Homo sapiens: one gene and its partner. The protein of the gene in region 1 interacts with the protein of each later gene in a biochemical or structural test. Each region holds a gene or a part of one and is shown in the gene's direction. Other genes may lie near its edges.

Region 1 (3,747 bases):
CTCCTGGTTAACTGGCAGGTCAACAGACTCAGTTCTTGGCCCTATTTCTTCTCAGTTCTTTTGGGGACACACTCCCTGCATTCCCACCTCAATCATCCCTCAGACACATTAACTGTCCTTGCCAGAGATCCCTCTGTCTCTCCTCCTTTTCCCCTTTCCCACCCACCGCTCCTCCTTGACCCTCCTCAGCCCCGAGCATGACCAGCGCTTTGTGGGAGCTCAATCAATAATGGAATTGTGACCAGGCACAGTGCCTCACACCTGTGATCCCAGTATTTTAGGAGGCCGAGGCATGAGGATCGCTGGAGCCCAGGAGCTGGAGACCAGCCTGGGCAACATGGCACAACCCCATCTCTATGATGATACCAGTGCTAGCCTTTCTTTTCTATCTCTACAATCACAACTCATTCCTAACAGAATTCCTGGTTTCCAGACTCACCCTACACATCAGTGACAAATGCCTCTTCCTATAAATACCATAGGTTGTCTGCTCTCCTATCCCAAACCCTTTGATACTGCCCACTGGAAAATGGAGTTCATGCTCCTCCATGGGCTGGGCTTTGCCACATGCCTAACCTTCACTGTCTCCATGCTCCCCAATAGTGGGGCCGGGGCTCCAGCCAGCCTGCACCCTCCACCATTCTGCATTAGGCAAGGCATCTCCTCACCCACTCCCACAGCCTCTTTGCCCAAATGCCTGCACTGCCAGCTGAAATTGCCTGCAGCCCACTTTAACCCAGCCCTCACTGGTACCTGGAAGTCCTCTCACCACACCTCTATCTTCCCCTCCACAAGCCTTTTCTGATTGCTCTGAGGACAAATGCCCCCCTGCTCAGTATAATCCACTAGGATGGTCCACATCACACCCCACCTTGTACTGTGGTTACATTCCCAAATGTTTCCATTTCTCAGCAAAAGAACTGATGGGGACGAGGCTGGAGTCCTGGTACAGCTCCTAGCACAGAAGGATCTCAAAGTAATACCTTCGGAATGACTGTTGAATAAATAGCTACTTTACTGTCCTTTTACTCAAGTATTGGTCTTTTATTTTCAACTCTTTCTGTCCTTTTTCCATTTATATGCTGCCTAAGAATCTTGAGCAGTGTTTCAGGAGAGCACATTGAATGGGAATGAGTGAATAGGTAAGAGGCCAAGATAGAGGGAACTCAGGCATCAAGGGTGGGCAGGGTCACTTAGTACTGGACAACTCAAGCTCTGATCCCTGGGTTAAAATCCTGACTTCACCACTTACTAGCTGTGTGACCTAGGGGAAATAACCTCTCTGTGCCTTCATTGCCTCACCTATGATAGAGTTAATAAAAGTAACTACCTCATATTGCTTTTGTGAGGATTAAATAAGTCAATGCATAAAAAAAACTAAGTTGGGCACATAGCATTCTTATGACTATCATTCTTACTATTACTCCTACTGTTACTATTATTGCCAGATCCATCATCCCCAAGGAGGGATGCTGAGTGTCAGGATTTCCTCACCATTTTCCTAATTAATTCTTTCCTCCCCTGTTCACAGGATGACACTCCTGTCCAGGACACTAAAATGTGAAGAACAGCTCATTGTGCCCCAGTGATGAAGTTGCTGGACACATCTCTTTGCAGGTAGCAGCAACAGTTGTAGCAGCAGCAGACGAAGCCATTGCAGAGGCAGAATATGCTGAGTGTCTGGAGTCAGCCTGAAGACACAGGGTGGATTATTTCCTGGCCTCCACACCAAACGTTCCCTTGCAGATGGAGACTGAATCTGAGGGCAGCAGACTTTTATCAGCTTGAGTTTATGTCATTTGATGGACTTGGTTCAACAACAAGAACTTACTTAAAACAATGTACTGTGGTGATGAGTCCCAGGGGCACTGGTCAGCCTGTGGAGCCCTGGATGCTATCCACACCCACCTATCCCTGCAGCTAATTTAGCTGATCTCTAATTTAACTGAGCTCTAATTTAGCTGATCAGATTTTGCTTGGGTAAAGTTCCTTTTTAATGTTCTAAAGTGTTTACGGTTCTCAAATATCAGTTAAAAACTAATTTTAGGTGGCCATAAACATAAAATAGAAACCCTGTAAGTTACAGAAGACCCTAAATTGTATCAAAACCCTAGAGACAACTTTTCAATTTGATCCAAATTTGAACTGGCCAACCAGTCTTTAAAACACTGGACTAGAAGAGATAATGATTGAAACATTTAAAAAAAAAAAGTGCTCCATTCGCAGGAGCTTTTCCTGTCCTGTGGTTTTCCAGTTGGTGACCACCATGGGAGGTCGCTGGCTCGGCTCACTCCCTTCTCCCACCCTTGAGAATGTGGAGAACTCCCATGGAGAGGCAGAATGGCAGGAGGTTTCATGTCCCGCGTTGCATCTCCTCCTGAAAGAAAAGCAGTGATACCTGAATAATGCTGGCTCTCCGATTGATCCTGTGAGGATGAATTTGCATTTCCAGAATCCTTGAGCATGGATTAGATGTTTCCTGGGAGGTGCCTTGAGTACCATTATGTGCAAGCTACATAATTAAAACATTTTTCTTAGTTTCCCTGGGAAGCTTTTCTTGACTCACAGCCCAGGTTCTTCTGCCCAACACAAAAGGAGTGAGTTGGGGTCTTTAGTCTCTTCTTATTGGGTAGCTCTTGCTTTAATATTCTGTTTGGTGAGTGTAAGGGATTCTGCAAGGGACAGGGGGCCTGACTACCCAGTCTTTGACTTGTATCCTCTCCCCTCTTCATACACTCCTGCTGAAAAATGTTAATCCAAATACACATTTAAACTTAGGGTCGGTCCTTATTCTGATTTGAGTATTTTAATGTCTCAGTGTGCTGATTTGGTAGTTGGAAGAATTATTCTTCTGGAGGTCTGTTAGACTACATCCTACACTGACTTCAGAAAACAGTCTGTCAGACAAAAAGGCCTTATGTCACCACTGGTACCTCAGTTTCCTCATCCCATTTACAGTTTTTCTAACTCCAGGGTAGTGTTTAGTGTTAATATTTGGGATATATTTTTTTTCAAAACTGTTTTTAAGTAGTTTGTAATTTGTAACAAACTTGTAACCTGGTTGGGACTGATATTGTCATAGCTATGATAAACTTTGGATATTAGCAGAATTTGGGAGATGTGTGTGTCAATTATTTTGAGATCTATAAACTTGTCTGTCTATCTATCTAGCTGGCTAGCTTGCTATCAATCTAGCTACCATCCATTTATTGACAGAGAAGTCTACCCCTAAACAATACTTGGTTTTATTTATATATGTCTTTGGGTTGTTTATACACATGCACTATCTGGGCAAGTACTTTGTGAATATGTGCATGATTGTGAATGTGTGATGAAAAGGGCCACTTTACTTGAGGAAGGCATGGAACAGAAAGTATGGGGTTTAGATATGAAAAATGAAACTGCATTTTTCTTCTGGAGGGTCTAAACATAGTAGCAGACGAGAGAGGGGCAGTAAAAATGACAAGAATGTGACATTGCGGCACCATGCTTGTGGGCATCAGAATACCTTTCTATCCCCCAAGTCTCCTGTTAGTCACATTATTTGGTGTATTTTGTGAAAAAAATAGAGGCCCCATTCCCAGGGCTTGTTCATTAATAAAGGGGGCTCTTGGCAGGGAACTCATGAAGTACAGGGACTGATTTTTGTTGGTGCTGCAGCCCCACTGCTTAAAACTCTCCTTTCTCAAAGCAACCATGATCAGGTGTTTTATTTGCATGGTTGATACTGGAACTTCTAAATTTGGG
Region 2 (3,747 bases), on another chromosome or scaffold:
AGAATGACATCTTGCTCAGCCTCAGGTTCACCAGGCTCAAACTAGTTGCCTTCAGAGAGCAGAGAGCCTTCTTTGGCTCCCCCCAGCAGTAGAAGATTCCAGATCATAGGGCTTTCAAAGAGGCTCTGAGATCTTGAATCAGATTCTCAGGTTGGGCTCAGGGACATCAATCCTGGGTCCAGCTGGGCATAAATGCATGTGTGTGTGCACATGTGCATGTGTATCTGTGTGCATGTGTGTTATATGCATGTGTGTTTATACGTGTTATATGCATGTGTGTGCACATGTGTAAAGGTGTGACTGCATGTGTACATGTGTGAGAGTATGTTTGCACATGTGGCTGTGTGAGGAGCCAGAAAGGACTAGGAGAGGAGGCCATGGTTTGAGGATAAGAGCCCAGCCCTGAGGTTGTGCTTTGGAGTTGGAATGGGGGCTCTGTCATGACAGCTGCTGACCTCAGACAGGTCACTTAACCTCTCTGGGCTTTTCTGTCCTGTGTGTCTGTAGTGTGGGGCAGAAGGGATAGTGTGACCTCCTCTAGGCTCTGTAAGGTCAGGGGGTTGCAGGGAGAGCACATTCCCAGCATCTGGTCTGCAAGAAGTGTTCACTATGGCCAGCTGAGGCTATTGTCTGGAGCCTCCTGCTTCACTGAACACTGCTAGCTTGAAGGTTGCCTGAAAGAAATAGGGGCAGAGCCCCAACCCCATCTCCACTCAACATCTGCACACAGTGGGTACCCACTAATAAGTTGTAGCACCCTTTCAGTCACTCATTCACTCATTCATTGACAGAAGATCATCTTTCCAAGAGCTACTTCTCTGATGAGCCTGCACATGCAGCCCAGGGGTCCGTGAGTGTGCGTGTGTTAACCAGAGGGGCTGAGGGGGAGGCGCTCACTGGGCCTAAATTCCGGAGCCAAGAGTAGGATGGCTGGAAGACGCCTCTGAGTGGAACCGAGGTCCTGGTACCTGCAGTCCTGTAGATGGCCTGTAGATGACAGCAGAGGCCCATGCAGAGCCCCTGCGCTGAGCCGCACCTTCCCAGTTCCAAGTGAGCCAGCTCGCTCAGGTCCCTCAGCTTCCGGATTGGGGGAGTGATGTGATGTGCGCAAGTAGTTCAGATCTGTCCCAGAAGACAGCCACAGCCACCCTCCCTATGGCTCTAGACAAGTTGTTTTCTCCCCAGGGGTCCCAGTTTCCTCATCTGTGAAATGAGAGTTGCTTAACAGCCGGTGTTGGGAAAACTGGCTCAAAATACGTAAGGTAGTCTAAGATGGGCTTAACAGAGACTTATATGTGCAAGGCAAAACTAGAAAGCTAATGGAGAATATCTGTCACTCGGATGGGAGACAGAGACTTTTTAAACACGACGCCAAAAGCCCAAACCATAAGGTGAAATGTTGGCGGATCTGATCAAATGGCAACTCGGGATTTCTGGTCCCCAGGATGCTGTATATACCAAAGGGAAGCAGCGAGTCAAGGGCATAAGCGGGAGCTGCAAAAAGGGGGCAGTCGCCAGTGCTGGAGACTCCCAGAGCCACCAGAGACTAAAGAGTGGCGAATTCAACAACGACAAGATGCCACCTCCCTCGGCATGTTTAAAAAGTTGAGTACGCTGAGGGTTGGCCAACACTAGGCAAGTCGGAAGCCTAGCAAGCCATACTGGAGGGCCACCTGGCAGCGTGCAGAGCAAACACCCGACTCAAGGAGAGCTTTCAAGAGAAATAAGACGTCCTGCGCTGTCACGTTCTAGGTTGCGAGTAAAACCCGGGACCCGCACAGTAGCGGACTGCCAGTACAGGGGCCTCCCTGGGTGTCCCTGGAAACCGAGGAAGTAACCGCCCCCTCGGGAAGCCACGCCTCCTATTTTGTTCCGGCTCGGGGGCGGGACCCAGCCGGGGCCCGCCTGGCCCTTTAAGGCTGACCTAGCGGGGCCCCAAGTTGGGATGACGCGCAGGGAGCGGGGGGTGGAGTGGGGGAGTGGGGGAGGGGGGGGTGGGGAGGGGGGGGAGGTCACGTGGGCGCCGGCAGCGCGACTCTCGGCCCTGGGATTTCTGCGGCCGCCAGCTCCCGCGACCGCCTCTCCTGCCCCTCGCCGGTACCTCAGCAAGGTGCGTTGCCGCCAGGTACGCCCTCGCTGGGCCCCCTCTGCGGCCTCCTCCGGGGACCTCGCGGCCATTAGGCGCCCGGCCCCTTCCCTTCTTGACACGTGCCCGGGCGGTGCTCGCTTGTACCCCGCCGCGCGACCACCGCCCCTTGCTGCACGTCTGTACTCTCAGGCCGTTCGTCCCGCACTCCCAGCTTGCCCCGGGCTCGCAGCCCAGCCCAGTTCAGAGGCTCCAAGGCTGGGGTGTGTTGGAAAAGTCTGGGCGGGACTCACTCTTCCCCTTTCCCCCAGGTGCCACTAGAAGCGCCAGGCTGGGGCCGCCTCTGAGCGCCCCGCGGGGGCCATGGATGGTGAAACAGCAGAGGAGCAGGGGGGCCCTGTGCCCCCGCCAGTTGCACCCGGCGGACCCGGCTTGGGCGGTGCTCCGGGGGGGCGGCGGGAGCCCAAGAAGTACGCAGTGACCGACGACTACCAGTTGTCCAAGCAGGTGCTGGGCCTGGGTGTGAACGGCAAAGTGCTGGAGTGCTTCCATCGGCGCACTGGACAGAAGTGTGCCCTGAAGGTCAGTGAGCCCTCACTGAGGCCTGGGGTATCCTGGAGGGTCCACAGCGGAAGCCTGTGAGTGAAGCTATGTCTAGCGCCCCTGCTAAGCTTCCTATGCTCAGCAACATGTTTCATCGTCATACTGTCCTGTAAGGTCAGGCTTGTGGTCCTCCCTACTTCACAGATGGGGAAACTGAGGCGTAGCCTAGCTAAGCTTTGAGTGTCCCAGTGAGCAAGGGGTGGAGTCACTATGGCTAGAGATGCTGTATCCGGAAGCAGGGAAGGGGTGACTCCTGACTCTGGGATTCTGGCTGGACCCATGTGTTCAGGCCCAAAGGGGATCTCTTGTTCAGCTTGGCTGCCCCTTCCATGTGAAGCTCCTCTGACTGGAATGGATCTGTTTCCCTTTGCTGGAAGCTGAGACCCCACCAAGGCTTGGGTGGGACTGCTTCTTCCCTGTGGCCCCTGCCTGTCTGGGCTGGAGTGGTGTGAGCCTCCCAGGGCTGGCCAGAGGACAAGGCTGATGCCCACTGCACCTGTGGAGCCTCAGGAGGCTGCTGATAGACTCCTGACGAGTCGCTGGTCCCGTGTTGAAAGGGACAGGCCCTGGGCCAACCCACCCCTGGTTCCTGGGCAGAGGGCGGGCCAGCCATCTAGCCACCTCAGACTATAGGCTCCCTGGAGACCTGGCATGCTGATATAGGTGGCATGGTGGGGGTCAGGGGGATGCTGGGGGCGGGTACCTGGTTCCAGCTTAAGGCATACAGTTCTGGGCCTAGGGCCACACCCCATACCCAGAATCCCTTGAATCTGTCATCTCTGGGGTCTTTACTCATTTGTAGCTTGTGCCAATGGATGGGTAGAGCATGGCAGGGATAGTGGCTCCTGGAGGCTAGAAGTACAGCAAAGGCCCTTCTCATTTTACAAAAGATTTTTTTTTTTTGAGGCAGAGTCTCACTCTGTCGCCAGGCTGGAGTGCAGTGGCACAATCTCAGCTCACTGCAACCTCCACCTCCCAGGTTCAAGCGATTTTACTGCCTCAGCCTCCTGAGTAGCTGGGACTACAGGCGTGCGCCACCACGCCCAGCTAATTTTTTG

The links. Proteins that work in one complex are often made in the same cells at the same time.
Region 2: of the proteins of RCSD1 (region 1) and MAPKAPK3, one has a biochemical effect on the other in vitro, tested with the Homo sapiens proteins (one study listed by BioGRID).

Annotation. Positions count from the first base shown.
Region 1 is NC_000001.11:167,703,133-167,706,879, forward strand, and holds part of RCSD1 (capZ-interacting protein), read left to right. Parts: intron 1-1,531; coding exon 1,532-1,564; 3' UTR 1,565-3,747. UniProt on the Homo sapiens protein: Stress-induced phosphorylation of CAPZIP may regulate the ability of F-actin-capping protein to remodel actin filament assembly.
Region 2 is NC_000003.12:50,615,117-50,618,863, forward strand, and holds the start of MAPKAPK3 (MAP kinase-activated protein kinase 3), read left to right. Parts: upstream 1-2,034; 5' UTR 2,035-2,125; intron 2,126-2,397; 5' UTR 2,398-2,449; coding exon 2,450-2,668; intron 2,669-3,747. UniProt on the Homo sapiens protein: Stress-activated serine/threonine-protein kinase involved in cytokines production, endocytosis, cell migration, chromatin remodeling and transcriptional regulation.